Homo sapiens: one gene and its partners. The protein of the gene in region 1 interacts with the protein of each later gene in a biochemical or structural test. Each region holds a gene or a part of one and is shown in the gene's direction. Other genes may lie near its edges.

Region 1 (7,837 bases):
CAAATTCAGTGACCTTCTTAAATGTTAGAGTTTCTTTAGAAGAGGAGATTATTTTGAGCTTTTCCTTCTGAGCCTAGAATATCTGCAATATTCATGTGACTACTTATTTTCAGCATATAGACATTCAGGTGCATTGCCGAGAACACGAACGGCTGTTATTTTCACACATTTTAATTCTTCTCTTGCCTTGAAGTGACGATTCAGTTGTAAACTAGGTTCCCTCCCAGAAAGGTTGGTAACTACCTTTTGTAGGTTAAGGATTGATTCCTACACCAGAGGAAGAGGTGTTGCTTTAATTATTTTATTTCAAACTGGGAAGAACACTCCTTTGATTTTGCAATTCACTTTAGGATCTTGTGATCTAGCAATTCTGATTGACAGAGTTTGAACCTGAAACTGAAATATCACATTACAAATCAAAGCTAACGTTTAGAAGCCTGTCCTTCATTTATTCATTCAGCAATTGCTTACTGAGCACATACTGTGTGCTAGGTGCTCTTCTGGACTCTGGAGATACAGATGTGAAAAAACAAGCAAACATTCCTCCTCTCAGGGAGCTTTCATTATCGTGAGTAGAAGCAGACAGCAAACAAGGTACCTAATAAGTCAGTTTGTGTATTAGTCACGGTTCTCTAGAGGGACAGAACTAATAGGATAGATGTATATATAAAGGGGAGTTTACTAAGGAGTATTGACTCACACAATCCCAAGATGAGTTCCCACAATAGGCCATCTGCAAGCTAAGGAGCAAGGAAGCCAGTCCAAGTCCCCAAAACTCCAAAGTAGGGAAGCCGACAGTGCAGCCCTTCGGTCTGTGTTCAAAGGTCTGAGTCCCAAAGCTGAAGAACTTGGAGTCTGATGTTCGAGGGCAGGAAGCATCCAGCACAGGAGGAAGATGTAGGCCAGAAGACTAAACCAGTCTAAAATTTCCACATTCTTCTCCCTGCTTTTATTCTGGCTGCACTGGCAGCTGATTGGAATGGTGCCCACCCAGATTGAGGGAGGGTCTGCCTTTTCCAGTCCAGTGACTCAAATGTTAATCTCCATGGCAGCACCCTCACAGACATACCCAAGATCAACACTTTGCATCCTTCAATCCAATCAAGTTGACACTCAATATTTACCATAACAGTTAGTAATAAGGGCTTGGAGAATAATAAAGCAAGGCATAATCATGGTGACTTTTTTTTTTTTTTTTTGGTAAATGGAGCAAAGCATATGTAGCTATTTTAAATAGGGTCACCACCTGCAGCAGGAAAGGAGCCAGCCGTGGAGACATCAGGGAAAGCGTTTAGGCAAAGGGAGAGGAAAAGCCTCAGTAGCATCGCGGTTTTCCTCTCCAAGAAACAGCATGGGAACCAGTGTGGCTGGGCTGAGGGGTGGAGGTGATAAAATGAAAGGTGCTCTGGGAGGTAACTGAGGCACGGGTTGCAAGGCATTCAGGAGACTCCTGGGTTTTTACCCTAAGTAAGGAGATTCTGTGCACAGGAGTGACATGGTCTGGCAGTATAGAATCATCAGACTGCTGTATTCAGAAAAACCTCTAGGGAGGCAGTGGAGAGCCCTTGGCACTTGGCCCAGGGCATTGGAAGTGGTAAAAGGCAGTTAAATTCCTGTTACACTTTGAAGGTAGTGCTAACACAATTTGCTCAAGAGATATGAGTGGAAAATAAATGTATGACTTCAAGGGTTGGGGCCAGAGCAACTGGAAAGAGCAATTCCCATGTACTGAGATGGGGGTGTCAGTGGTGGGCTGTGTGTGGTAGGATATGTGTTGGTGGTGGGCTGTGCATAGGGATCATGATTTTTCTTTGGGACACATTAGTTTTGAAATGCCTCTGAGACCTCCAAGTGGAGCTACTGGAAGGTATTTTTTGAGTATTGATATTTGAATGATTGGATCTGCATTCAGGAGCATAGTCTATGTTAAAGATATCAATTTGAAAGTTATCAGCACAAAGATTTTTTTAAAACTGTGACACCTGATGAGATCCCTAGAGAGTGAGTGTAGATGAGAAGAGAGAGGCCCCTGAATTCAGATGCAGAACACTCTCCTGTCTAGAGATTATGAGATGTTAAGGATCATGGAGCATGGGGCTGAAAAATAGCTTCTGTTGAAACTGAATGAAAATCCAGTAGAGACCAGGCGTGGTGGCTCACATCTGTAATCCCAGCACTTTGGGAGGCCAAGGCGAGTGGATCACCTGATGTCAGGAGTTCAAGACCAGCCTGGCAAACATGGTGAAACCCCATCTCTACAAAAATACAAAAATTAGCCAGGCATGATGGCAGGTGCCTGTAATGCCAGCTACTTGGGAGGCCAAGGTGGGAGAATCTCTTAAACTAGGCAGGCGGGCAGAGGTTGCAGCGAGCCAAGATCACACCATTGCACTCCAGCCTGGGTGACAGGGTGAGACTCTGTCTCAAAAAAAAAAAAAAAAAAAAATCCAGTAGAGTAGTGTCCTGAACACCAAATGAAGCCTGCATTTCTTAGAGAAGGAAGTGATCAGCAGTGTTGTGAATATTGATGACTGGGGGAGTCCTCACATGGCTCTGCCAGACCTCCATATTGGGGTGCTTCCCATTCCAATAACGACAGGAAAAATACATTTCCTCCTTACATATGTGATGTTCAGACCTCATAGGAGCCACCTGATGCAGTACTTTTGACCTGCAGGTCATCTACCTCATATTACCTGTGTGTTTCATATAAGATATACATAATCCTGGGTCCCACCTGCACTCAGGGAATCAGCATATCCCAGTATAAGTCTTGGACATTCCAGAGATTCCTGATGTTGATTGAGAATGACTTGACTCAGAAATACCATTTGATCCAGCAATCTCATTACTGGTTATATACCCAAAGGAATATAAATCATTCTATTATAAAGATGCATGCACACTTGTGTACATTGCAGCACTATTCACAATAGCAAAGACATGGAATGAACCCAAATGCCCATCAACAGTAGACTGGATAAAGAAAATGTGGAACATATCCACCATGGAATACTATGCAGCCATGAAAAGGAACAAGATCATGTCCTTTGCAGGGACATGGATGGAGCTGGAAGCCATTATCCTCAGCAAACTAATGCAGGAACAGAAAACGAAAGACTGCATGCTCTCAGTTCTAAGTGGGAGCCGAAGGATGAGAACACATGGACACATGGAGGGGAGCAACACACACCAGGGCCTGCTTGGGGGAGGTGGGGAGGTAGAGCATCAGGAAGAACAGCTAAATGGTTGCTGGGCTTAATACCTAGGTGATGGGTTGATTTGTGCAGCAAACCACCATGGCACATATTTACCTCTGTAACAAGCCTGCACATGTACCCTGGAACTGAAAATAAAAGTTAATTTAAAAAAAAAATGACTTGACTAGCAGTATCACATAATATGCTTTCAATTAGCCTCTTACCTAAAAAATACTATGAAGCTTTCTTATTTTAGAAAATAAAGGAACTAACCTAACTAAATGTCCAGACATGATATATCATAGAGGAAAGCAAGAAATTTCAAAAAATAAGTTATGTTTCCATCATTCCAAAACCACAAATGACTGAGAATAAAAACAAGGATTTTTTTTCTCCAGTCTTCTTCATGTATATCAAGTTAGATATTACTTTTTTGAGCCTCCAACACAGATGGTGCTATAATTAGAATTATTGACAGCATCTTCCCGTGATGGCATCTTGAAATGAAACCCTCTGTAAATCACTGGTGGTGAGCAGCATCTCCACTTGCTCAATTTGTAATAGAAAATGAAGTAAAGACCCTCCAGCTTTGGTATATTTAATCTTCTTCATATATGTATTTTCAGTGGAGATTTGTGAGGTGGTAATTCCAGCACCTCATCTTTCTCTTGACAGCTGAGAAGGTTTTTGTTAATAAGACAAACCAGAAATGGTACAATCACAAAAATGAATGCTATCCATAAGTCATCCAGTGTGCAATGTGGATAAAAAATGGTGCAGGTTTTTATATTTTTTTTCTTTTCTGATTTCCCTTTATTGTTCTTAACTGATGCAAGAATTGCTAGCTACAGGGCACGAAGATGAAAACAATTGCTTTTATGAGCTGAATTTCTTTTTCTTTTCAGAGTGTTAAAAGGTGATTCTTTGTTGCTTACCTATTTAATGTCAATTCACCCACATTGAATTGTACTATATTTTACTAAAATATGTCAATTTCAGCACAGTAAAAATTTGGCTGGGTTGCCGTGGTATGGAAATGCCTAAAACGATCCTTCTGTATTACAAATTTGGACCAAACAAATTTATCTTACTGTTTAATACTCTATCTTTTAATTTGAGGCTTAACAAGGAGATCTTACTTAACTGCTTGTTTTCAGCTTTGCCTTTCTTTTACTTTTTTTTTTTTTTTTTGAGACAGTGTCTCATTCTCTTGCGCAGGCTGGTATGCAGTGGTGCTAATCGCGGCTCACTGCAGCCTTGACCTCCCGGGTTCAAGCGCTCCTTCCGCCTCAGCTTCCTGAGTAGCTGGGACCACAGGCATGCACCACCCTGCCCAGCTAATTTTTTAAATTTTGTAGAGACAGGGTTTCACTATGTTGCCCAGGCTGTCCTCAAACTCCTGAGCTCAAGATATCTGCCAGCCTCAGCCTTGCAAAGTGCTGGGATTGCAGACATGAGCCACCATGCCCCTCCACCCCCGTTTTCAGCTTTTCTATCTATAAAAAGCAATGCTTCACGTGTTGACCATGTAGTCATTACATGTCCAAAGATGTTAGTTTTGTGGAGTCATATGATGTGTCTTTGTACTGGGATTTCAGATCCATCTGCCCCACCAGCACCGGCTAACCTCCGGCTGGCCAACTCCACCGTCAACAGTGATGGGAGTGTGACCGTCACTATAGTTTGGGATCTCCCCGAGGAGCCGGACATCCCTGTGCATCATTACAAGGTCTTTTGGAGCTGGATGGTCAGCAGTAAGTCTCTTGTCCCAACAAAGAAGAAGCGGAGAAAGACTACGGATGGGGTGAGTGGGAACTGGAGGAAGGATTGTTATTCCCACAGAGGGTATTTCAACTCAAGGCAACTGGCCTGAAAAGAGGCCTCTGCTAAACTGAGAGATGCCATGGATGCAGGAAAGCTTCCCTCCCATTCATTTCTACCGAGGAAGTTCACAGAATGCAGGGGCATGCCGGCTGTTTTGCCTTTTATATTTTAGGCAGAAGCATTTGCATTTAGACCATTGACCTACTCCTATCTAAATGTCAGTCAGAACTCTGGAAATCAAAGGAACAGTTTAAATGATCCCCATCTTACCTGTCTGGCCATAGAAAATGATATTATGCAAAATGTACTTTACTTTTAAGTTTTTTTTTTTTTTTTTTGAGAGAGAGAGATCCTTGTAAATGGAAGAGTGGATGTTCATGGCTTTTCTGTTGCGAAGTGTTTCCGTCTGTAATCTAATCACTGAGCAGTAACAGCTTAGGAAGGCCACGTCTCACAATATGTTCTTCTCATTGATTAAAAGGATCTGGAGTGGTTTATCCGTCAGATGCCAAGAAATAAAATCTTCATTGAACCATTTTCTGCAATGAGATTCTTATGATAACAAGCATCTTGTATTATTTGAAATGCTTACTGCATAAAAATAGTTATTTGGATTCCTTTTAGTATACATTCCTTTATCTTGTCATAAAATTTACATAAATACCTTTTCCTATCACTTATAAAGTTGAATTCCATAAATAAATGTTTAGAAATGAAAAGATAGCAAGGCTAAAGATTTCAATATCTGTGCTCTTCAGAATTATAAAACATGCCTCAAAAAGTTGGTATCATTGATATTTAGCCATTATACTATTTTAACTTTATTTATTTATTTTTGAGAGGGAGTCTCGCTCTGTCTCTCAGACTGGAGTGCAGTGGAGCAATCTCGGCTCACTGCAAGCTCCGCCTCCCGGGTTCACGCCATTCTCCTGCCTCAGCCTCCCGAGTAGCTGGGACTACAGGCGCCCGCCACCACACCCAGCTAATTTTTTGTATTTTTAGTAGAGACAGGGTTTCACCATGTTAGCCAGGATGATCTCTATCTCCTGACCTCGTGATCCGCCCACCTTGGCCTCCCAAAGTGCTGGGATTACAGGCGTGAGCCACCACGCCCAGCCCCACTTTATTTTTATGAAATTTTATGACAGTTCCATTTTTTATATTGAAGGATTTTGCTACAAATGATAATGGTAGTGCACACTTATTGCATGAGCTGGAAGAGCTGAAATTGGGGAATCACTTAGGAATCTAGAGCAAAAAGTGACATGATGAAATGCTGACAGGTCCCACCCTCCAGCCCCCTGCCCAATACATTATGACAGAAAATAATGAAGCACCTTGAAGCATTTTGTCAAGTTAATTTTTCTTTTGTATAGCTTTTGGTGGAAATTTGCTCCTAGAAAATTTAGAACAGATATCAAAGAATTGCAATTAGTGCCAATTCATAATTTTTCCATGTATGTGGCAACATAGATCTCTGTTACTTTATTATAAACAGCTCCCTTTCCTTCGAGAGGTGGTGTCTCAGAGTGGCGAGGGCTCAGAATGATTTATTTCCATGGTATCTGAGACCAATAATTGGTTTAGAAACAGTATTTCAAAATACATTTGGCCTTTCTATGAAGTTTATTTTTATTTTTTATTTCATTATATTTTTTGAGACAGGGTCTCACTCTGTTGCCCAGGCTGGAGTGCAGTGGTGCGATCACAGCTCACTGCAGCCACAACCTCCTGGGTTCAATCTTCTCACCTCAGCCTCCTGAGTAGCTGGAACTACAAGTGCACACCACCATGCCCAATTAATTTTTTTTGTAGAGACAGTCTTGCTATGTTGCCCAGGTAGTCTCAAACTCCTGGGCTCAAGCGATCCTCCCACCTCGGGCTCCCAAAGTGCTGGGATTGCAGTCAGGAGCCACCGCACCTGGCCTGAAGTTTATTTTGATCAGTAGTAAAACTGAATTTTCAGATCCCAAAGATATAGAAAAGTTGGTAAAAGAAATCAGAAGTTGGCATGCTTCATAATGACACACGAGATTTTGCAATGAAGATGAGAGACGTGGAAGGTTTGTAACGCATTTTGGGTATATTCTCTTAATTTCTAGTTTCAAAATTCTGTGATCCTGGAGAAACTCCAGCCAGACTGTGACTATGTTGTGGAATTGCAAGCCATAACGTACTGGGGACAGACACGGCTGAAGAGTGCAAAGGTGTCCCTTCACTTCACATCGACACATGCAACCAACAACAGTAAGTGACTGTGTCATGTTTTTCAAGATGATTGTGACATGATGGGCGCCATATCACAACAAGGCACAATGGAGGGAGAGTGAGTTTTTGATTTGGAATAATTATATGGCAAATCTTCTTACCCACATGCATGTGACTAAAGTATTTAAACTACGACATACGAAACAGTTTGACTTTTGAATTCTTTCTTATGGTTTTTATCTATTGTAGGTGCAATTTTGGTGTTGTAATGGAAATTTAAGAAAACTTATTGTGTCTCATTTTAACAGATTGACTGTTTTTATGTTTACATGACGTGCACATATGCATTCTGCATACTTGTTTTTCAGGAGATTACGTACAGTTAAACTGTTATAACTTGATGTTATTTCTGCTTCCACTGTTTCTGTAATTGTTGTTGTTGTTGTTTTGTTTTGTTTTGTTTTGTTTGGTATTTTTGAGACAGAGTCTAGCTCTGTCACCCAGGCTGGAGTGCAATGGCGTGATCTCAGCTCACTGCAACCTTTGCCTCCCGGGTTCAAGCGGTTCTCCTGCCTCAGTCTCCTGAGTAGCTGGGATTACAGGCG
Region 2 (7,837 bases), on another chromosome or scaffold:
GAAGAACAAATATAATGATACAAATGTCAGACACTGGGAATGTCCAAGATTCTGGAAGGAAAGGGTGGTATTATTGAGCTAAATCCTCAACTTTGTCTGGGCACAGTGGCTAAAAATTAGCCGGGCATGGTAGCATGCACCTGTAGTCCCAGCTACTTGGGAGGCTGAGGCGGAAGGATCGCTTGAGCTTGAGAGGCGGAAGTTGCAGTGAGCCAAGATGGCACTACTGCACTCCAGCCTGGGAGACAGAGAAAGACCCTGTGTCAACATAAATAAATATATAAATAAATCATCAAGTCTCATATTAAAGACTCTGTAAATATGACTTATTGTTGACAAATGAAACAAATAGAGGTGTAAGCATGTTGTCTACATGGAGGCAAGACCAGAATAATAGAAAATGGAAACAGATTCCCTTAAAGAGGGGAATCGTGTCTTTCTCATTGGCTCAATGTAGTCTCCGTAGAGTCTAGAATGCTTCAGCACCTGGCACACTGCTTAACAAATGGTGAATGAAAAAAAAAAAAAGAAAAGTCATTCTTTTTCTTCTTTCACCCTATGTCCATAATCTGGCCATTTGCAGAACTTGATGTCCAGTGATCGAAATCAACAGCATCAGTGCATCCAATATCTTCTAGTCTCTCATCTTCTTATTACATCATTAATTTTATTTACTTTAAAATTAAGGATATCCAAAGTATTATGTGAGACCATTGCAATGGGAGACTTAAAAGTGGTATAAAATGTACTTTGGGCCAGGCGCAGTGGCTCACGCCTGTAATCCCAGCACTTTGGGAGGCCAAGGTGGGCGGATCACGAGGTCAAGAGATCGAGAGCATCCTGGCCAACATGGTGAAACCCCGTCTCTATTAAAAATACAAAAAAATTAGCTGGGCATGGTGGCGCATACCTGTAATCCCAGCTACTCGGGAAGCTGAGGCAGGAGAATCGCTTGAAACCAGAAGGCGGAGGTTGCAGTGAGCCAGGATCACGCCACTGCACTCCAGCCTGGGCAACAAGAGCGAAACTCCATCTCAAAAAAAAAAAAAAAAAAGTACATTGAATTGGAAAGTCTTCAAAAAGCAGCAGTGATGAATTTTTTGAGATTTTTAACAATTACAAAAATTCAGGGTTTTTTCTAATGGATGCCACCTGAGACTTTATTTTCTGTTATTTTCTTGTAATAACTAACCAAACAAGCTCATGTTGAAAAATGATTACTAAATTTGAGCTAATTGCAATGACTGGTTTCAAAATTTTCCACAGTGTATTTGAGTTAAAATTTCACTGTGAAGAGTACTACGATCACTCTCGCTTATTCCAAAAATATAAATGGACACTTGAGTATTTGAATTATTGAGGAAATGGTTGACTGGGTAATTTTTAAAAATCACTGGGCACAAAAAATATATTTTGACTTATATTAGTTTAGAGTATTTACACTTGAAAGAGTCTCATCTTTTCTGAAGGGTGTTTCTTTCATACACATTTTATTGCACTGAGTTTTGTGACCCATGGCATATTAATGAAGCTGAACAGGATGTGAAATATAAACTGGAAGCAAAAGATTAAATAAACCAAAATTGCATTTTTTCTGTAGTCTTGTCCAAAATTGGGTAACCACTTCTGATGGGGTAGCTCATATCCAAGAATGAGTCACAAAACCAGACTCGTTGAACCTGGTATATGATGAGTCACAAAGCAACATTCTGCCTTTGTTTTTTCAGGACAAGAAACTTGAATTGTATCCCACTGAGTTAAAAGATAAAATATATGGCATTGGCATTTCTGTACTTCAGAGAGGAATATATCTGTTTGTGGTAGGAATAAAAAATAAGTGAGAGAGGCAAAGCTTAGGTTCATCATATTATGTTACTGATATAACACAATTAACTTGGTAAAAGTGAAGGTGTGGGTGGGCGTGGTGGCTCACGCTTGTAATCCCAGCACTTTGGGAGTCCGAGGCGGGTGGATCACCTGAGGTCGGGAGTTCGAGACCAGCCTGACCAACATGGAGAAACCCCATCTCTACTAAAAATATAAAATTAGCCAGGCATGGTGGCACACGCCTCTAATCCCAGCTACTCGGGAGGCTGAGGCAGGAGAAGCGCTTAAACCTGGGAGGTGGAGTTTGCAGTGAGCTGAGATTGAGCCACTGCACTCTAGCCTGGGCAACAAGAGCAAAACTCTGTCTCAAAAAAAAAAAAAAAAAGTGAAGGTGCCCAGTGTCTGCAACTATGTCACCCCGGGCATATCACATATCACTCTGTTTTTCCGTCTGTAAAACGGGAGCAACAATGCCATTGCCTTATCATCAGAAGGATATGGAGACTAAATGGGAGAATGTAGGTAAACAGCACAGAGTATGGGTATCAGTAAGTAAACTGCAGCAGTTTGTTGATGTTAACAATAGTTAGCATTATATCTAACTATATCTAACGATATAACCATTGGGAATCCAGTTTTCCATGATTTTCCTCTAGAATGGAGCTGCCTAAGTCCTGCTTAAGTCATTTTTCTTTGAAGATTACTGAACATCATCTTCAAATGTTCATCCTTGTAAACACGTGTGTGTGTGTGTGTGTGTGTTAATTTAAATTTTCAGAAAAATTCTGTAGGCCGTTGGAAGGAAGCTACCATACCAGGCCACTTAAACTCCTACACCATCAAAGGCCTGAAGCCTGGTGTGGTATACGAGGGCCAGCTCATCAGCATCCAGCAGTACGGCCACCAAGAAGTGACTCGCTTTGACTTCACCACCACCAGCACCAGCACACCTGTGACCAGTATGTACACAACCACCCTCATGCCTCCTACCCCCGAGGTTCCTAGAGCTAGGCTCTCCTGAGGCAATGCTTTCCTTCTCAATTCATATTCTTCCAGGAGGGGCACCAACGTTTTTTAAAATGATGTTGGCGACGAGGACGGTAAATTTTCTAGATGACTGAAGGCTGACTTTCCCCTTTCTGTGACTCTCTAGGCAACACCGTGACAGGAGAGACGACTCCCTTTTCTCCTCTTGTGGCCACTTCTGAATCTGTGACCGAAATCACAGCCAGTAGCTTTGTGGTCTCCTGGGTCTCAGCTTCCGACACCGTGTCGGGATTCCGGGTGGAATATGAGCTGAGTGAGGAGGGAGATGAGCCACAGTACCTGGGTAAGCTCAATATGTCGCTCAAGACAGGTTCAGGGCAGCTGCTGGAAAACTCTCCTTGTGGGGGTGGGTGGCCTCTAGGCAGGTGGTATCTGTGGTTTGGAACTGGTTGACAGCTCAGACTGAACAAACCACCCTCTGGCATGAGGAAGGGAAGGACTGACTCTTTCTAAGAAGTGGCCGGGTTTTTCCCAAGCCACTGTCACATGTTCCTGGTCCCTGATGCCAGCTGCATCATGCGCCTACCTGTGCACAAGTTCCTACAGCAAAAGCTGTGTTCTTGGTGGAAGTAATTACCAGGACTGCAGCTGACAATGTGAGCACAGTACGGTCACTCATACTTTTCAAATTGTTATGGTGAGGGGCCTTTAAAAAACTTCATTGGCGCACTGAAGTGTGTGCCATCGTAAGCACTGAGTTCAGTGAATTTGAATTCTTATAAAGTGAACACACCACAAGACCAGCACCCAGATCAAGGAAAAGAATATCTCTCTACCCTCACCCCATCATCTTCCGCCAATAATCACTACCCTGACTCTTACTGCAGAGAGCTATTTTTAAAAATTTGGCATTCGATTACAAAAATTATACGTCTTTAGAAAAAAAGTTGGAAAAATGAAAGGAAGAAGGAGGAGGAGGAGAAAGGAGAAAGACAAGAAGTGGTGTTTTCCCATAGTACATTAATAATCACAGATTAGGTGGGTGCGGTGGCTAACTCCTATAATCTCAGCACTTCGGGAAGCTGAGGCTGGTGGATCACTTGAGGCCAGGAGTTCGAGATCAGCCTGGCCAACATGGTGAACCTCCATCTCTAATAAAAATGCAAAAAAAATAGCCGGGTGTGGTGGTGTGCACCTGTAATCCCAGCTACTCGGGAGGCCGAGGCAGAAGAATTGCTTGAACCGGAAAGGTAGAGGATGCAGTGAGCTGAAATTGTGCCACTGCACTCCAGCCTGGGCAACACAGCAAGACTCTGTGTAAAAATAATAATAATAATCACTGATTAGCTATTAGCACATTACCTTCTAGTCGCTTTTCCCTATGAATATATAATTCTTAAAATATCCTTCTTATAAGCTGTAGAGTCATTTGAGGGACTAGTTTGCTCTGATTAGTTACCTTTTCTTTTCATTTCAAAGATCTTCCAAGCACAGCCACTTCTGTGAACATCCCTGACCTGCTTCCTGGCCGAAAATACATTGTAAATGTCTATCAGATATCTGAGGATGGGGAGCAGAGTTTGATCCTGTCTACTTCACAAACAACAGGTACATGTGTGCTACATAGTGTTAAAAGAATCTTTTTCTGTAAAACACAGGCCTGTAGTAGCACTTCCTGACTGTTTGCCCCACTTTCTTTCTTTCTTAGCGCCTGATGCCCCTCCTGACACGACTGTGGACCAAGTTGATGACACCTCAATTGTTGTTCGCTGGAGCAGACCCCAGGCTCCCATCACAGGTCAGCTAAGCGTCCCCCTCTTTGGCTGCTATGTTAATCTTAATGACATCAGCAGGGAGGGCGCAGATTCTGACTGCGGACCTGCATATCACTTTAAATCTCCAATATAATTTATGGGAGAGGGGTTTGTGTGTGTGTGTGTGTGTGTGTGTGGCGGGGGTGGGGGAGTTATTTTCTATGGCACATTTCCCCTTGAAACCATTTCACCAACTCCCTTATACACACACACCACAACATACACACAACCTGTAAAGCCAGCTCATTGGCTTATTAAAGCAAGTGTTCCCAGGGTTGAAGAGGTGTAATTTCCTGAAAACGTTGCTCTAAGATTTATCCTTAAGGAGAAAGCTGAGCTGTCGTCTTAGCTCATTAGGTGATTCAACTGCCTCATCACTGAAGTTCCAAAAAGACACACACAGTGCTAGACAACTCTGCTTAGGCTGGTTCATTAATTGCTTCCCTCGTCTGGAGCTCAAAGAGGAAAAATCAGCTTAACATGAATATTTTCACCTAATGGCATCTCTAATTGACATTTATTAAGGATGTCAGGTCTTCAAGGATGACATTTATTATTAAAAAGGTTCGCATGACTGTTCTTATTTTATCTTCGTGCTGAATAGTCATTATTAGAAGAAGTGGCAATATTCAAAGAGTCAAAAAGTATCACTGGCTCTTCACTAATCAAGCAAGATGCTAAGGGATATTAGAAAAGGGAGGATTTATGGTGTTTCTAAGCCTCTGTCTCAAAGAAAACAGTGCATCTTACTTTTGCTCATGAATCTGCAGGGTACAGAATAGTCTATTCGCCATCAGTAGAAGGTAGCAGCACAGAACTCAACCTTCCTGAAACTGCAAACTCCGTCACCCTCAGTGACTTGCAACCTGGTGTTCAGTATAACATCACTATCTATGCTGTGGAAGAAAATCAAGAAAGTACACCTGTTGTCATTCAACAAGAAACCACTGGCACCCCACGCTCAGGTAACTTTTTTAAGAAGACACTTCCTATGTTATCTTATCAGGATTGTTCCTGAAGGAGGGTTGTTTTGTCTCTGTCAACAGTCCTCTCATTCAAGAAATCTTATATATTAGTTTTTCCCTAAACTTCTGATATTTAGCTGAAATGTCATAAGTAACTTATCAAAGCTGGCTACTGGCCTTTCTGATTAAAAACTGACACCATAACGTCCATCTACAAATTTTCCCCTAGAAGCTTAAGGGTCATTTCATTTTTGATTCTTAAGTATTATAAAATGATTCAGTAAAACAAAAACTGTTACATTATTTTCTGCAGTTATTTCAAAGGCTTTTTCTAAAAAATTTTTTAGTATCTTTTCTTATAACCCTCTCCCCCCACCACCATATGACACTTCATATGCTGGTAACTCACTTATTACCTATTTTAGATAAAAGGTTCAAATGTCATAATTTAAGCACTATGACTGGACCATGAAAATGTGATCTGATTAAGAGACAAAACTTAGCAAAACTCTCGAATGAGAGGCTCAATGAACTGCCTAACATATCCAAGAAACTGGCTTCTTAAAAGTAATCTTCAGCAGAGAATGTGAATGACCAGTTGACTCTTGTCTGTCAGATACAGTGCCCTCTCCCAGGGACCTGCAGTTTGTGGAAGTGACAGACGTGAAGGTCACCATCATGTGGACACCGCCTGAGAGTGCAGTGACCGGCTACCGTGTGGATGTGATCCCCGTCAACCTGCCTGGCGAGCACGGGCAGAGGCTGCCCATCAGCAGGAACACCTTTGCAGAAGTCACCGGGCTGTCCCCTGGGGTCACCTATTACTTCAAAGTCTTTGCAGTGAGCCATGGGAGGGAGAGCAAGCCTCTGACTGCTCAACAGACAACCAGTATGTCTTCTCCTATCTCTATCTCCCCTCCAAATTCTCCACCCTCACTTGCAGCCTGTGAGAAAGTGCAGTAAACCATTCACTCAGAGGTGTATGGCTTAGAGAGAGGGAAATACCCAGCCGGCAAGGGAATGCATAGTGAACACAAAGCACATTAAACTTGAAAACAAAACTCAGACAAGCTCCATGGATGCTAAGTGGTAACCCATTTCTAAAATACATGTACCAGCTGAAGGGTACTAAGAGGGGAGAACTGAAGAGAATCTAATTTGAGTGCATTTTTCGTGTAACTAAATATATCTAGATCAAAGTTAAAATGCAGGATCATAACACTTAGAGTAGAATTCATTTAACAATAGCAATTGTCAAGTGTCTAGTATTACTAGCCACCAGCTTATCTGCTCAGTTTTTACAAGCATTATTCTCATATTTACTCTTTGTTTTGACCTTAGGAAGGAAGGTCTTATTATTATTATTTTATTTATTTATTTTTTTGAGATGGAGTCTCGCTCTGTCGCCAGGGCTGGAGTACAGTGGCACCATCTCAGCTCACTGGAACCTCTACCACCTGGGTTCAAGCAATTCTCCTGCCTCAGCCTCCCGAGTAGCTGGGACTACAGGCGTGTGCCACCATGCCCTGCTAATTTTTGTGTTTTTAGTAGAAATGGGTTTCGCTGTGTTGGCCAAGCTGGTCTGAAACTCCTGACCTCAAGTGATCCACCCACTTTGGCCTCCCAAAGTGCTGGGATTACAGGCGTGAGCCATCGTGCCCAGCCGGAAGGTCTTACTAGTATCCGTATTGAATACTTAAAGAAACTGAGGCTTTAAAAAAGTTCTGCAACTTGTAGGGTCACAGAGATAGGAAGGGATAGAGCTGGCTCTATAACCTATGTCCGAAGCCCATGCTCTCAATTATTATACTCGACTGCCTCTTAAAGATTTCCTCTATTTGAAAGGTAATTTAAATTTCGGTGGGAAAACTGCTGGTTATTATTCTCAAGAATAAACTCCACAACTTATGTGATTCTGATAGTGCAAACTCACCAGTATCCTACCATGAATCTGAGGATACGTTATCATTACTGTAATTACTGTCTAATCTGAACCATGTGAAAATAACTTTTATTTCTCTAGCAAAGGGCTATTCACAGAATATTGCTTTTGACCCATAGAGAGCTTCTTCTTGCTGTCATTTTAGGAGGCATATCCCTTTTTCCTTAATCTGTTTGGCTCAGAGCTAACTGTGAACTTCAGAAGTGTTTGTTTTGCCTTTTTAAAAATACCATTGCTTTAATGTAACTATAATTTCTGAGACTGATGCGAAAGTCTTGCTGGAAAATTAGACTTCCCAAAGG
Region 3 (7,837 bases), on another chromosome or scaffold:
CCCCACCCAGCAGGGGTCTGGGGGTGCAGGGCCTTTCCCGAAGGTGCTGGCTGCAACCTCCCCCACTCCTCCTCTGCAGGGCTGGACTTTGAGCCGCGTGGGCCTCTGGGTGGTTCATTAACCTGGGCTGAGCCTGGCCTCCAGGTCCTTGTGTGAGCCTAGGAACCCCTTGTTACCCACCCCCCAGCTCCCCAGCCCTCAGGTCTCACTTGGGGCTAGATCTGGGGCTGTGGCACCCCTTGTTACAGCTGAGCTTGAGTGGGAGCCCAGGGGCTTGGGGTCTCCTGGAGGACGGGGATCTAAAGTCACCTCATCTAGGGAGGCATGCAGCCCTCACCTGAGTGATTCAGGAGTGAATGAGCCAGGAGTGGAGCCACCTTTGGTGGGGTAGGGGTCAGCCTGGACCTCTAGGCTGCCAGCTCAGGCTCGGGTGCCCTCTTCGAACCTCAGTTTCCTTACCTGTCCAAGAGAACCGATAATGGCAGGCTGTTTGAAGGATTAGGCCAGATAACCCTGGCAAGCCCTCTTTAGCCTGCCCAGCCTCCAGATCCCTTTTTTCCGGACTTTATTGTGAAACTCCAGGTGGGGAGACAGGGAGGCTGGACTTTTGGGGGCCCCCTCCTCTTAGGCTATTTTATAGCTCCTACCTGGCAATACCTCCTGTACCCCAGAGAGCTGCAGAGAACTTCATGTGCATCCGAAACCAGAATGTGTTGTTTCCTGACCCCAGGCCCTCATCTCACCCCAAAACCCAAATAAACCCCTGGGGCAGCCAGCTCCGGAAGCGAGTCTGGATTTGATCCTTGTTCTCTGGGGTCAACCCGAGGGGCTTATGATGGAGCAAGGCTCCCCCATCCTCTCAGCCATGCTCCCTCACATGCACTGGGCCTCCACTGCAGAGACCCAGAGCCTGGAGAAAGGTTCCCCAGGCCAGAGTTTGGCCGTCCCCAGCACCCTGCCTAATGGACATCAGTCTTGGGGCCAGAGACCCAGGGCAGGGAGCGCCTCTCACCCCTACCCTCACTCCTGCAGCCATTTCAGGGCCTGGTGCCCTCCCTGAGCTCCTGGGCCTGTGGGGTGGGATTTTTACTTTGTGCCACAGTGGGGGAAACTGAGGTACAGGACCAGTGAGTGGCAGAGTTGTGGAGACTCTGGGACACAGCAGAGGGCTGTCGTTGGCATGTGGAGCCCAAGTTGAGGTCGGCACTGTGTGGGGTTGGGGCGCCGGCAGGAGCACGTGTTGTGGGATCCATAGAAGGGTGGGAGGTGGGACGCGTTGCCTCCTACCCCGCCTTGGGTACAGCAGGAGTTTTGTCTCCAACGTGTTTGGGCACCAGTGTCTGTGTGGTGTCAGTGGGGCCTCCCTTTTGTGGATCAAGAAAGAAAGAACCCTTCCTAGGGCTGCTGGGGGGCTATAGCTCTCCCCATGCCTGGCAGCTGGGTGGGGTATGGGGGCTCCACCCAACTGCTGACTTCCCAGTGGGAGTCAGACCCTGAACTTATAGCACCCACTCATGCCCCGTGTCACACTGTCCTTCACCTGGTGCTCGCCACCCAGCCCCTGCTGGGGTACCCTGGCCTCTGCTGGCACCTAGCAGGCAGGCAGTGGGGGGGGCAGTCAGGGCTGCACCCTCCCCACCACACACGGGCAGATGGCCACTGGTGTGGCTGGCCTGGGGCTGCTGTGTCCCCCGTCCCCCCGTGCTGGACCAGGCTGAAGCAAATACTTGTGTGGATGGCTTGACCTGTTGTCGCCACTCAGACCAAACCGGAACCAACCGGCTGTTGCCCTTGGGCCAGGGCCTGCAGCTGAGGCTGCCATAACCAGCCTGTTCTCGGCCTTCTGGGGGGCCTCGAGCAGCTCCCAGCTCTGGGTGGTCCCCACAAGACACTGGCCAGGACCGGAGGGCTGGAGGTCAGGCCAGGAGCCCCCCTGACTGCGGGGTCCCTACAGGGGCAGTCCTTGAGCTGTGGGTCCCGGTGGGGCGAGGGCTCCTTCGGATGCTTCAGGGGATGAGTGTGGGCCCTTCTGGCTGGCAGGGTCACCCTGGGCACTAGGCGTGTGTGGCTGGATCAGGTGGGTTGGGCAGAAGAGGGCCTGGCCGGGCAGCCAGGGACTGGTGTGGCCAGAGTGGGCAGCTGGGCCCCCGAATCTAGGCCACGCGTCTGCAGAATGACAAGTGATGGCGCAACCCGCCCAGCTGGGTCTGAAGAAGGAGGCTGCCTGGGGGACCACCCACCCCCGTCCCGGCCCCAAGCCCGGGACGCCTGCCTGCATGCATTGTCTGGCCCTGGCAGGGAAGCCTAGGGGCGATTGTCCCCCCAGCCCTGCCCATGGTGTGTCCTTGGGTCACAGGCTTTGGTGGCTCTGGGGAGCTGGGCAGCTACTGGGGAGGGACCCAGGGGCCACCTGCACATCTGCCCCTGTGGGTGGGCCCCCACCCCAGCTTCTCAGCCCCCAGGGAGGGGCCAGGGCTGCTGACCTGCCCTGGCTCTCACAGCTTCCTGCCCCCAGCCTGGTCGTCCTCTGTGAGGGGGCCCCAGTCCCCCTGCAGGCAGCAGGACTCCACCCCCCGGCCCCCTTGAGGGCCCGCCTGGGCCTCCCCACTCCCCGGCCTGTGAGACCCACTTGGCCGGACCCAGCGCCGTGTTTGTACTTTGCTCTTCTCGGTATGTTTTCCGTCATGACCGCCGTGTGGAGCTTCCATAGGAGCTGCAGGATACAGAACCTTGCCCACCCCAAGGAGCCCCCACCCCCGCCCCGGCCCCCTCGCGCTGCTCCGGCCTGTGCTCTGACCGGTGAACCCGCGCATCGCCCCCCAGACCGTCCACACGGCCACGTGACCCTGCACCTCCTTCCTTCTCGCCTGTTCTGTTCCCTGGCTGTCCATCTGAACTGCTTTTCAGGCTCATATGGGGTGCGGGGGCTACTGAGGACGGACCCCTCCTGGGGTGAATCTGCACCACGAGGGGGCTGGCTGGCCAACCCTGGCACCCCCTCTGAGCTCCATTTCAGTCAGAGGCCAGCAAAGGGCAGCCTGTCCCCTTTGCCCGCAGCACCTGCCCGTCGTGGTGCCGCCTGTGAGACAAGCATGGATTTTATGTTTCCAAGCAATTGAACAAATTAAAAGAACGAAGAGTCACATTTTGTGACACTTTGAGATTTGAATTCTCCGTGTCCATGAGTGAAGCATCATGGGGCCACTGCTGTGGGGTTGGCTGCAGGTTGTGTGGGGAAGGCGGCTGTCACACCGAGGCAGACCGGAGTCCTTGGGACAGACTGGTTGGCAAAGCTGAAGATAGAGACCTTTGGCCCTTTTGGGACACAGTTTCCAGCCCCTGGTCTGGTGGGACCCTGGATCTGGGTCAGAGCCTTCCTCACTCAGGGCCGCCGAGGCTTCCACTGCTGTGTCTGTAAACGGTGCCGGGTTTGGGGGTGCCTGCCTCATGGTTGCCCATCTTCCCCACAGAAGTCCCGGGCCCAGAGCCCGGCCAGCAGGAGCAGTTGGTCTTCGGCAGCGGGGATGCTGTGGAGCTGAGCTGTCCCCCGCCCGGGGGTGGTCCCATGGGGCCCACTGTCTGGGTCAAGGATGGCACAGGGCTGGTGCCCTCGGAGCGTGTCCTGGTGGGGCCCCAGCGGCTGCAGGTGCTGAATGCCTCCCACGAGGACTCCGGGGCCTACAGCTGCCGGCAGCGGCTCACGCAGCGCGTACTGTGCCACTTCAGTGTGCGGGTGACAGGTGAGCTCTGGGGCCACGCCAGCTACAGAAAGGAGCCGAGTGCCGGGCTCCCTGAGTCCCTGCGTGGGTCAGGAGCGGCTGGGGGTCTCTCTGGTCATTGGTGGAGAGGAGGGCACCCCCAGGAAGTGCTGCCCAAATGGGGGACCCTGCCCCATCTGGGAGGGGCACCTGGGGGCCTCCTGGGGCAGGTTGGGCATTGGTTGCGGCCATCTCTGCCTTGCAGACGCTCCATCCTCGGGAGATGACGAAGACGGGGAGGACGAGGCTGAGGACACAGGTGTGGACACAGGTAGGAGCAGGGTCCAGGGTTCAGGCCAGCCGGGGTGGGGCCCGCTGCCACCGCCAAGCCCTGCCCTTCACAGGCAGCTGAGGGACTAAGGCCCCGGAACAACCTCCCTGGGGTCACCCCGAAGGTCTGGTCCCCTCAGGATACAGGAGGGGCTGGGTCACTGACATGGCTCTAGATGCCCCACCCTGGTGGCAGGGCTGGGGTGCAAGGGGACACCGTGTTGCTGATGGGGAGACTGAGGCACAGGGCCCTGGGGGTTCCAGGAGCAGGAGGAGGCCAGGGCTGGCCTGTGGGGCTCTGGTGTTGGCTATAGGTGAGGTGGACCCCGCAGACATTAGCGCAGCAGGGCAGGGCACTCAGGTGGCTGCCGTGGGGTGGATGGACCCGGGGTGAGGGCGCCGGGGCACCTGCCACAACCAGTGGCGGGCAGGGTGGCTGGCAGGAGGGTGGCTGGTGGGTGGGCTGCGGCTGTGAGAGAGCAGTCGGGGACGATGCCTGGCGTCCCGGCCTGGAACGGTGGCAGGTGGACTTTGCCAAGTTGTAGGGTGGGGAGGTGGGGCTTCTGGTTTTGGAGGGAGCTCTGAGGGGAGTGCGTGCAGGTGAGGGTCATCGTGGCACAGACATGGGGGGCAGTTACGACTTGCGGACTGATGGTGTGTGCGCTGGGTCCCTGGGCCAGTGGGGTAAGCAGGTGAGGAAGGGAGGCTGAGTCCATGAGAGAAACAGCTGGGGGAACTCACCCTGGGGGTCTCCAGGAGGCCTGGGAGGGAGCTCAGCACCGTGGGGTGCCTCTTTCCAGCCTGTGTCCACACTGCTGCTTGCTGGGCCTCAGTGCCCCTGATGGGCGTGTGCCTGGAGGGGGCTGGCAGTGAGCTCACTGAGGGGAGGGCTGCTTCCCTCCTGGGGAATGCCAGCCCATCCTTGCCTGGAGTCCCGGCAGGAAGGCAGCACCAGCCCTGAGGAAGGAGAAAAACCAGTTGGGCTGTGAGAGGGGTGGTGGGAGCCCTGGACATCGAGATGGGAGGAGGCAGGGCCTCCAGGGTGCCACCGTCTCTGGGTGCCCGCCAGACTTGGAGCTCTGCAGAGGGTGGTGTAGGGTCTTGATTTCCGTGGGCCCATGCTGCCCAGCTGCCTCCAAGGCTCCTGGCTCTGCAGGCGACTGGGCTCCTCTCCTGGTAAACTGCTCCCAGGTCCTGGCTTGTCCACTAGATGGGCCTGCCCCCTGGGTCTTCAGTCTCCCCGTTGGTGGGCCTGGCCCTGGCACGCCTCTCTGGGCAGGTGGGCTCCCCTGGACAATGCCCTGTGCCCTGTGACTTCACAGGTCCGGGCAGAGCACCCTGGAGGGGAGGGGAGGGGACACACGGCCCAGCTCTGAGAAAGCCCCGGGGAGGGGACAAGATGTGGAGGCTCCTGGGAACCTCATCCCGCCCTCTTCCTACACAGGACGGGAAACTGAGGCTGGGGATGGGCAGGGGCAGCTCTGGGAAGGGGGTTGTTCAGAGGGGCCTCTGCTCCCACTCGGGTCATGGCCTTCACACGCACCTCGGCCCGCAGGGGCCCCTTACTGGACACGGCCCGAGCGGATGGACAAGAAGCTGCTGGCCGTGCCGGCCGCCAACACCGTCCGCTTCCGCTGCCCAGCCGCTGGCAACCCCACTCCCTCCATCTCCTGGCTGAAGAACGGCAGGGAGTTCCGCGGCGAGCACCGCATTGGAGGCATCAAGGTGGGCGCGGCGGGGTGGCTCTGGGCCTGGCAGGCGCGGTGGTTGCTGCCTCCGCTCACTCACCCGCCCGCGTCCCGGTGCAGCTGCGGCATCAGCAGTGGAGCCTGGTCATGGAAAGCGTGGTGCCCTCGGACCGCGGCAACTACACCTGCGTCGTGGAGAACAAGTTTGGCAGCATCCGGCAGACGTACACGCTGGACGTGCTGGGTGAGGGCCCTGGGGCGGCGCGGGGGTGGGGGCGGCAGTGGCGGTGGTGGTGAGGGAGGGGGTGGCCCCTGAGCGTCATCTGCCCCCACAGAGCGCTCCCCGCACCGGCCCATCCTGCAGGCGGGGCTGCCGGCCAACCAGACGGCGGTGCTGGGCAGCGACGTGGAGTTCCACTGCAAGGTGTACAGTGACGCACAGCCCCACATCCAGTGGCTCAAGCACGTGGAGGTGAATGGCAGCAAGGTGGGCCCGGACGGCACACCCTACGTTACCGTGCTCAAGGTGGGCCACCGTGTGCACGTGGGTGCCGCCGCTGGGGCTCCTGGGCTGGCCCCAAGGGTGCCCCTTGGCTGCGGGTTGCGTGAGGATTTGGGTCTAGGGGTTGGAGCTTCGGGGGCAGAAGCTGTGGGGGTGCTTGTGGGGCCAAGTCTCAGCCACCCCACACCTCAGGGCCATAGGCAGCTGCGTTGGGACCCGTTTCCGTGTCTGCAGAGGGCCAGCCTCAGCCACTGAAGTCCCTGACATGGAGCTGCCCACGGGCTTCTTGGGGGTGGGTGCGGCTTGGGCAGCAGTGGTGCCCCAGGACAGGAGGGCAGTGTGGCCAAGCCCTCCAGGCCCCCTCTGGGCCTCAGAGGCGGTGGCTGAGCCCCGACCTGGCCGATTGGCTCTCGTCAGCTGTGTGCAGTGGGGCCCGAGCTCACTGTCTGCCCGCCTCCTGAAGCCCTTAGCTTTGTTCCCATGGCTGCCGGGTGGGGGCCACTGAATTGGGACGGTTGCGACACTCAAAGCCCAAAGAGAAACATCTGTTCAGAGAGAAGACGGTCTCTTGGGGGCGGGGAGCAGGCGCAGGGCGAGGGTGGAGTCCAGACCCCGCCCAGAGAGGCCGCCTCGGGCCCTGTCCAGGGTGCAGGTTCTGCAAGAGCCCGGGGGAGGGCAGGCCAGTGACCAGAGGTTGTCTGAGGGTCTGGGCTGGGTTGTTGGGGTGGAGGCAGAGACGTGCATCCTGTGAAACCACAGCCACCGTGAAGTGCCTCCACGCCTCCTCCAGGCAGCCTTTGGGGCTGACGCAGCCCAGCCTCGATCTGTACCTTGGGGGTCTCCCACATCCTGCCTCGTGCCCGGCGGGGCTGCCTCGGGGGCGTGCCTGAGCCGGGTCTCTTGTCCCCGCAGTCCTGGATCAGTGAGAGTGTGGAGGCCGACGTGCGCCTCCGCCTGGCCAATGTGTCGGAGCGGGACGGGGGCGAGTACCTCTGTCGAGCCACCAATTTCATAGGCGTGGCCGAGAAGGCCTTTTGGCTGAGCGTTCACGGGCCCCGAGCAGGTAACGACTCTGTCCCATGCCGGCCGGCACAAGAGCTCCAGCTCCAAGGCCCTGGCCGCGCGCCCTGCACGCCCCGCACGCCCAGCCCTGCTCGCTCCCGCCCCGGCTCGCGCTCCACTCGGGGCCGCCTCGGCAAGGCTGGCAGCTCCAGCCTCCACGGTGACCGCCCGCTTCGAGCCCTGTGGCCTGCGCCGACCCTTCCCGCACGCCTGCGACCCCCACAGGAGGTGCCCGGTGCCCACCGGGCCGGCTCCGTGCCGTCTGTGAGCACCCCTTTGCGCCTCTCTCCACCCCTGCCCGCTGCCTGCTCGCTTCCGCAGCCTGTGTGTCCCTGTGTCCATCCTCCACCTGCACCCGCCCGGCTCTGCGCTAACCCGCATGCTGCCTGCCCGCCTGCCGCTCACCTGGGACAGAGGACTCGCCGGTGGAGGGGCCTGGCTTCGGGCTCAGTACCGGTGTACCAGGCGGAGGGCCCTCAGCCGCGTGGCGGTGACCAAGTTGGCGGTGGCTGAGGAGTTGGTGGTGGCGGCGTTTTCCTTGCAGCGGCTGGATCCTG
Region 4 (7,837 bases), on another chromosome or scaffold:
AAGAGTGAGTAGTGAGAGCTGGACAGAAAAAAATCAGGGGCCCTGTGGCCACTGGGGCAGCCGTGAGCCACAGCAGGGGCTGAGGGAGAACATGCTGTTTCAGAGCCTTATGCATCGGGGAGCGGCAGTCGCTCCACTGAGTCTCTTAGGGTGAACAAATGGTGAGAAAAGTCCTCTCCAAGGCTGTGGGCGGGATGTGGGTGGTAGGTGAGAGGTGGAAGATGCCAGGAGTACATTTGAACATCCTAAAAGGAAATAGAAAGTTCATTTCCCCTCGTGAGTGCAGAGGGGTGTGCTCAGGAGATGGGTAACAGCCCAGGATGGTGAACTCAGGTGTGTCCGGGCCACGGGCCTTCTTGAACGCGTGCGGGAAGAGGCACTGGTCAGGGGAGGGACAGGTGCTCTTGGTGGTATCAGATCTTGTGAGGTGCAGACACCCCGGTGGGTCCAGTGCTCCCACCCAGGGACAGAGAAGGATGGGGCACGGGGAGGGAGAGTGGATGGTGGGGGGCCTGAGGGTGTGCCCAGTCAGAGGGCTGAGGAGAAAGGACCTTTGTGTGCGACAGCTCCTGCTGCCAGAGCAAGTGTGGGTTTTATGGCAGCTGTGGCCTCCCGTCCTAATATAGTCAACAGCTCCAAATCCCCTGCCCTGACACCTGTTAGCGAGAGGTTCCCTGAGCTGACCTCTCCTTGGGCTGCCCCCCCAGCATGTGCATCTGACGCGTCGAGGGCCAGACCCCCACCCTCTCCGAATCACACGCATCCTGGTCAGCCCCCAGTTGACAAATTGCCTTCTCTCGACTTGGGCAGGGGCTGCTGGGGTTTTGAGGGGCGGGGTTTGTTCAGCTGTTGCTAGGGAAGGGTGAGGCTGAGCTATCCCAAAGGAAATGGGGTGTTCCTCTGGCAAGTGGCAATCTTGGCAAAGAACTGAGCATCTGGGGAGGGGGCAACTCCGGACACAAAGAAGTCCTGGGGAGGGCCGACCTTTCCCCTTAGGATGGGGGAAATGAAATGCGCTTAATGCTGCTACAGCTGCTTCCTAACTTTGCCTCTTTCTTCCTTTGACTTTTGGAGGAGTGGGGTGGAAAAGAGATGGGGGTTCCCAGGCAGCCAGCTGTTTTCCCCACTGACCCATGCTCCAATTCCCACTGCCCTGGCTCAGTAGCCTCCAGTAAGTGATGCCCAGGATGGTGCGGCTCCGTGTGGCCAGCGTAATTCCCTTTGTCTCTCCCCTCCTCCCCTCTCCCTGTCTTCCTCTCTCGCCCCTTGGCTTCCCTTCCCGGCCCCGTGGTGGCTGCAGCCCAGCCCTGGGGAGCCCCTGTGGAAGTGGAGTCCTTCCTGGTCCACCCCGGTGACCTGCTGCAGCTTCGCTGTCGGCTGCGGGACGATGTGCAGAGCATCAACTGGCTGCGGGACGGGGTGCAGCTGGCGGAAAGCAACCGCACCCGCATCACAGGGGAGGAGGTGGAGGTGCAGGACTCCGTGCCCGCAGACTCCGGCCTCTATGCTTGCGTAACCAGCAGCCCCTCGGGCAGTGACACCACCTACTTCTCCGTCAATGTTTCAGGTTGGTAGCCAAGCCCTGCCCTTGCCCCTCCCTAGACCCACCCCCTCCAGCCCTCTCTGCCAGTTTCAGAGGAAGGTGAACCTCCTCCCCCTCCGTGATCTGCCCCCACTCTGCTTCAGAAACTGCTGCCCACTAACATTGCTCCCTGCCTGCCGCGTGGCTTGGCTCTCAGAGAGGTGACTAGGTGGGGTGGGCCCCAGGGCCGGAGATCTGGGGCTTCCAGGACACACCTCGGAGGTGATTGCCAGGGCTCTTGGGATGTTAAGACCCTGTGATTTTTTTCCACCACAGCTTGCCCAGATCTCCAGGAGGCTAAGTGGTGCTCGGCCAGCTTCCACTCCATCACTCCCTTGCCATTTGGACTTGGTACTCGGCTTAGTGATTAGAGGCCCTGAACAGGTGGTGGTATCCCTGCTCTGCTGGAGAGGAACCCAGGTGCACCGCAAGGGAGCTGTGCGAGGGCAGCCAGGGAGCCCTGGAGCTCTGTGAACTTGGGAACTTGCCACTCTTAGAATGTGACTTTCACAAAACTAGGAGTTGAGGAAGTGGAGCTGAAATTTTCTTTATGCCATTTATGCACCTCAGGGTGTGGACTTGGCAGCAGATCCCCAAAGGTGATAGGAAGGACTGGAGAAAGATCTGGCATGAACCCTGATGGGTGACCACATGTGTATCAAGCGTGTTCTTACAAGAAATAAATACTTATTGGGGAGAGGTGTTGGCAGCTGCTGGGGTGGTGGGTGCCCTATCTGCTCTGATTAAGGAGGGCAGCCCCCAAACCTTAGTAGACACATGCTAGAAAAATTCTGACTGTGGGGTGTTTAGCCCATCCTTTGGAAATAGCATCTAGCCACAGTGTGTCTAGACCTGCCTGGGTTTCCCTATAGTCAGCCGTCCAAAGAAGAATACAGGTTGCCTGGCTCCAGCACACCCAGGTGGCACCACAAGTTGAGAAAGCGCCTTTGAATGTAGGACGGAATTAAGTTAAATAGGAACAGCTGACCCTGATGGAACCACCCAGTGTGAAGGCTTCCAGGCAGTGGGGGCAGTGCTTCGGGGAAGGAAGCAAACACGCACAGGAACTGTTCTTAAACAGTTTCCATCCCACCAAGAGATCATCACTAAGGGAGCAGTGGGACTGGGATCCCCATGGGGAGGGTGTCCGTGTTCATCTGGAACTGCACTAGCCTTGGTGAAATCTAGGGGTCCCTAGGAGGAACCTCAGTGCCCCTTCTTCTTCCCATAGATGCTCTCCCCTCCTCGGAGGATGATGATGATGATGATGACTCCTCTTCAGAGGAGAAAGAAACAGATAACACCAAACCAAACCGTATGCGTGAGACACTGTTTCCTATCTTACTGCCCTTTGGGTCTGGGCATTGGGTTTAAGAGGGGAGGGGAAGGCTGAAAGGGGAGGAAGAGGAGGGCACATGGGGTCACGGTGCCTGTTCTGCTAAGTGCCAGGCACTGCTCACAGGTGTTGGGCAGATGGGCAAGACACCTCCAGGTCCTGGCCTGGGCCCTGCTCCTGAGCCTGACCAGCTGCTCCTCTCCACCCTGCCTGTCTCTCTTGGCTTTCCCCGGGCAGCCGTAGCTCCATATTGGACATCCCCAGAAAAGATGGAAAAGAAATTGCATGCAGTGCCGGCTGCCAAGACAGTGAAGTTCAAATGCCCTTCCAGTGGGACCCCAAACCCCACACTGCGCTGGTTGAAAAATGGCAAAGAATTCAAACCTGACCACAGAATTGGAGGCTACAAGGTACGTGTGTGTGCATGCGAAAGTTAGAGTAATGGGAACAGGGGAGGCCGAGTTAGGAAGTCCTGATTACATGCTTTTCATTTTTTTAAGTAATACTTTCCACCTATACAGGTTATTCATTAAAATTTTTAAATACAAAAAAATGCAAATAAAGTTTAAACATTTCTTCAGTCTTCTTTCTGTAATATGGTTTTTACATAGTTGATCACATCATGTATGTAATTTCCTTGCCTTGTCATTTGTTAACATGAGTCTTTTCCTGATATATTTCAAGCATGAATATTTGAAACATAATTTTTCATGACTGTATAAGATTCCATTATTTTAAAATCCCATAATTTGGCTGGGCATGGTGGCTCACGCCTAAAATCCTATCACTTTGGGAGGCCGAGGTGGGCGGATTGCCTGAGCTCAGGAGTTCGAGACCAGCCTGGGCAACATGGCGAAACCTCCTCTGTACTAAAAATACAAAAAATTAGCCATGTGTGGTGGCAGGCTCCTGTAATCCCAGCTACTGGGGAGGCTGAAGCAGGAGATTGCTTGAACCCAGGAGACAGAGGTTGCAGTGAGCTGAGATCACGTCATTTCACTCTAGCCTGGGTGACAGAGTGAGACTCTGTCTCCAAAAAACAACAGAAAAAGTCCTATAATTTAATGAACTATTTTGTGATATTAGGTATTTTCTGGTTTTTCACCATAATAAATAATGTTGCAGTGAATCTCTGTCAGCATTTTTTTAAGCGTGCTTCCTTAGGACAGATTGTTACAAGTGAAATTACTAACTTAAAGGGTGTAAGCATTTTTTTTTTTTTTTTAGACGGAGTCTCACTCTGTCACCCAGGCTGGAGTGCAGTGGTGCCATCTTGGCTCACTGCAAGCTCCACCTCCCAGGTTCATGCCATTCTCCTGCCTCAGCCTCCCGAGTACCTGGGATGTGCAGCCACCATTCCCAGCTAATTTTTGTATTTTTAGTAGAGACGGGGTTTCCCCATGTTGGCCAGGCTGGTCTTGAACTCATGACCTCAAGTGATCTGTCCGCCTGGGCCTCCCAAAGAGCTGGGATTACAGGCTTGAGCCACCGCACCCAGCCAGAAATATTTTAAATTAATTCACCATGCACTCACTACATGCAAGACACCATGCTTTAAATGCTGCAAGATAGCGTTCCTGCCCATAAAAATTTTGCAGTCTGATAGGAGGCAAATGTCCATGAGCAGCTACCGTAAAAAGTAGACTGTGATCAGTGCTTTGGTAGGCAGAGAGGAAAGGGTGAGCACAGTTCTGACCAGAGACTGGACTGGAGGAGATGGTTTTTGAAATGAGCTGTCAAGGACAGTGGGGGCTGGATTCTTAGTGTAATAGGAGAGGTGCACAGTTGGGAACATTCTTGGTGTATTTGGGAGTGTTTGCAGAAGGCACATCTGTCCGGATCACGAATGATCTTGAACGTCACAGTGGAGACTTCTGGAGTCTTTACACCCCATCTGCCAGCTTGCAGAGTGTGAACGGGCTGGTAGGGGGGCAATCCACGCCTTGTCCTAGCCAACCCTGCAGCCTGGGGCCCTGTGCCACCAGGCTCTGATATGGAGGGCAGGTGCCACGGGGTGCCGACATTGTCATGGGGCCTGCATTTTCCTCTGGACCCTCAATGTATCCCTTTGGCATTTCCCCTCAGGTCCGTTATGCCACCTGGAGCATCATAATGGACTCTGTGGTGCCCTCTGACAAGGGCAACTACACCTGCATTGTGGAGAATGAGTACGGCAGCATCAACCACACATACCAGCTGGATGTCGTGGGTAAGAGGGCAGAGGCAGCAGGAGGAATGAGTTTAGTGGGAAGAGCCAGGCTTGGAGAACACAGCCGGGGTGTCCAGGTTTCTTAGGGGCAGAGTCAGGATAGCGATTGGCACTTCTTGGCTTTGTCACCTTGAGCAGGTCACTTCTCCCTTTTGAGCCTCACTTTTCTTATCTGTAAAATAGAGTTAAGATCAGACAGTAACACGGTCAAAGCTGGTTGTCACTGTGAAATTGAAGGTGCTGTTCAGAGTCTGTCCTGAAGGAGGCGTTGTTGGAGAGGTGTTAAATGTAGCGTAATAGGAGCTGTCGCTTAATGCTAGCAAGATGCCAGGCTCCTTAAATACCTGCCCTGTAATGCTCATGGCACACCTGCAAGGTGGGCAGTATTAGTCTAGCCCTGCACAGGAGCACAGGCGCATAGGCTCAGAGAGGTCAGACACCTTGCTAATGCAGAACTGCACACCTGTGCCAACTTCAGGGCATCACAGGAGACTCTGGGAAGAACATTGAGCCTCTTGGAGCTATTACCGCAACCTTTTCCTTCTAGGAGTTCTGAAACTCACTCCCTAGAGATCATTGGGTACAGAATCTCTCAGCCAGTGTTCTTCTTGATTATGATGATATGGTCTAAGAAGGAGATTGTGGCCAGGAGCAGTGGCTTATGAGCTCCAGGTGGCATGATGGGATTACTCACGCCTGTGATCCCATCACTTTAGGAGGCCAAGGCTGGAGGATTGCTTGAGGCCAGGAGTGTGAGACCAGCCTGGGCAACACAGTGAGACCCTGTCTCTATAAAAAAATTTAAAAATTAGCCTAGTGCAGTGTCATGTACTTGTAGTACCAGCTGAGTTAACTGAGGCTACTGAGGTGGGAAGATCACTTGAGCCCAGGAATTCGAAGCTGCAGTGAGCTATGATGACACCCTTGTGCTCCAGCATGGGTGACAGAGTGAGACCCTGCCTTTAAAAAAAAAAAAGGTAAAAAGGAGATTCTGATCCAAGAGGTTGGGGTAAGATCTGAGATTCCGCGTTTCTAACAAGCTCCTAGGGGATGCTGGTAGCACTGCTCGTGGACCACACTTTGAATAGCAGGAGTCAAAGTGACTCTGGTTTTTTAAGGAGGAGCAGGTTGTGCTGAGGTCTGGGGGTGCAACTGAATTAGAAGGTTCTCCATTAAAGCATGAGCGACTTACTGTGACTGTAAATATGATGACTGCCTTGGGGAGGAGGATCCTGATGGCTTAGGGCCTGAAGAGAGGGTGTCCCTTTCCCCAGCTCTGTTTTGAGAGGCTTGGGCTCAGCAGAAGTGCTGGGAGGTTTACAACCCATCACTGGGAAAGCCAAGTGGGGCGCAGGTGAGCCCACCCCTCTTTAGCCATGGCAAGGTCCCCATGACAAGTGCCTCCTCTCCCATCTTCCACAGAGCGGTCCCCTCACCGGCCCATCCTGCAAGCAGGGTTGCCCGCCAACAAAACAGTGGCCCTGGGTAGCAACGTGGAGTTCATGTGTAAGGTGTACAGTGACCCGCAGCCGCACATCCAGTGGCTAAAGCACATCGAGGTGAATGGGAGCAAGATTGGCCCAGACAACCTGCCTTATGTCCAGATCTTGAAGGTAATCATGGCACCAGTCTTCGTGGGCCAGTCTACTGGGAAGGAGACCACTGTCTCGGGGGCTCAAGTTCCTGTGGGCAGGCTCAGTTGCCCCCGAATGGGATCATTCCTCACGCTTCAGGCACACACACTCCATCTCAGTAGGGATCTAGCCACATCCCCCAGGACTAGTAACAGAGGTCACAAAGTGGAGGTGAGCTGGGAACAGAGGGCTGCAGGGATGGGTGGTGCTGGTCTGTAATAAGCTTTGAGAGCAACGTCACTGGGGCTTTGGGGTCAGCTACACAAGGAAGGCATTTGGACCCCTGCCTTTTCATTGCCCGAAACCAGAGCCTTTCCACCAAGCGTTTCCCAGTCTTAGCCCTGTGTCCTGAGTTACGTACGATCTTTCTGGCAAATGGGGTGCATGATAAGAGCATCTCTTACGAAGAGTTGGAAAAACAAATGCCATATATAAATTCTAAGCCATATGAGGACGAGGAGTAATGGCATTTTCTTCCTTTTTCCTCTCACTCCCAGACATTCATTGTCCCTGAATGCTCCATTAATCCAGGGAAGGTAATTGCCTAAATCTCCAGTGGATCTCGCAACAGGAAGGAACCAGAAGCTGGGAAAGTTGTTTACCTCTTTGTCCCAGAGTTAGACCTCATCCTCCCCTAGCTTAGCTGTCTCAGAGATATACTGGCCCTCCCTTCTCTTCTCTTTGCTGCTGGTGCTAAAACTGCTCTGTAGGTCATTGGCCACTGTCTCCACTCACAACCCCTGCTCCAGTCCTGGAGGGAGTGGGTTAAACACAAATAGAACATTCCATTTGAAGCAGTGATTCTTTTTTTTTTTTTTTTTTTTTAATCAAATGCTTTGGACTTTTGAAGTCCACTTGTTCTGTACTTGTAAAAGGGAAAGAAGGCCGGGCGCAGTGGCTCACGCCTGTAATCCCAGCACTTTAGATCACTTGAGGTCAGGAGTTTGAGACCAGCCCGGCCAACATGGTGAAACCCCATCTCTACTAAAAATACAAAAATTAGCTGTGCATAGTGGTTGGCACCTGTAGTCCCAGCTACTCAGGAGGCTGAGGCAAGCTAACTGCTTGAACCCAGA

What was found.
Region 2: the proteins of ANOS1 (region 1) and FN1 form a complex in vitro, tested with the Homo sapiens proteins (one study listed by BioGRID).
Region 3: the proteins of ANOS1 (region 1) and FGFR3 form a complex in vitro, tested with the Homo sapiens proteins (one study listed by BioGRID).
Region 4: the proteins of ANOS1 (region 1) and FGFR1 form a complex in vitro, tested with the Homo sapiens proteins (3 studies listed by BioGRID and IntAct, with this or other methods).

The regions. Positions count from the first base shown.
Region 1 is NC_000023.11:8,567,666-8,575,502, reverse strand, and holds part of ANOS1 (anosmin-1 isoform 1 precursor), read left to right. Parts: intron 1-4,798; coding exon 4,799-5,004; intron 5,005-7,126; coding exon 7,127-7,271; intron 7,272-7,837. UniProt on the Homo sapiens protein: Has a dual branch-promoting and guidance activity, which may play an important role in the patterning of mitral and tufted cell collaterals to the olfactory cortex. Chemoattractant for fetal olfactory epithelial cells.
Region 2 is NC_000002.12:215,404,883-215,412,719, reverse strand, and holds part of FN1 (fibronectin isoform 1 precursor), read left to right. Parts: intron 1-2,605; coding exon 2,606-2,786; intron 2,787-2,980; coding exon 2,981-3,157; intron 3,158-4,293; coding exon 4,294-4,422; intron 4,423-4,522; coding exon 4,523-4,612; intron 4,613-5,398; coding exon 5,399-5,593; intron 5,594-6,209; coding exon 6,210-6,482; intron 6,483-7,837. UniProt on the Homo sapiens protein: Fibronectins bind cell surfaces and various compounds including collagen, fibrin, heparin, DNA, and actin. Fibronectins are involved in cell adhesion, cell motility, opsonization, wound healing, and maintenance of cell shape.
Region 3 is NC_000004.12:1,795,784-1,803,620, forward strand, and holds part of FGFR3 (fibroblast growth factor receptor 3 isoform 1 precursor), read left to right. Parts: intron 1-3,470; coding exon 3,471-3,740; intron 3,741-3,963; coding exon 3,964-4,029; intron 4,030-5,583; coding exon 5,584-5,753; intron 5,754-5,836; coding exon 5,837-5,960; intron 5,961-6,051; coding exon 6,052-6,242; intron 6,243-7,130; coding exon of another isoform or gene 7,131-7,281; intron 7,282-7,837.
Region 4 is NC_000008.11:38,423,412-38,431,248, reverse strand, and holds part of FGFR1 (fibroblast growth factor receptor 1 isoform 1 precursor), read left to right. Parts: intron 1-1,300; coding exon 1,301-1,567; intron 1,568-2,813; coding exon 2,814-2,903; intron 2,904-3,155; coding exon 3,156-3,328; intron 3,329-5,003; coding exon 5,004-5,127; intron 5,128-6,549; coding exon 6,550-6,740; intron 6,741-7,837. UniProt on the Homo sapiens protein: Tyrosine-protein kinase that acts as a cell-surface receptor for fibroblast growth factors and plays an essential role in the regulation of embryonic development, cell proliferation, differentiation and migration.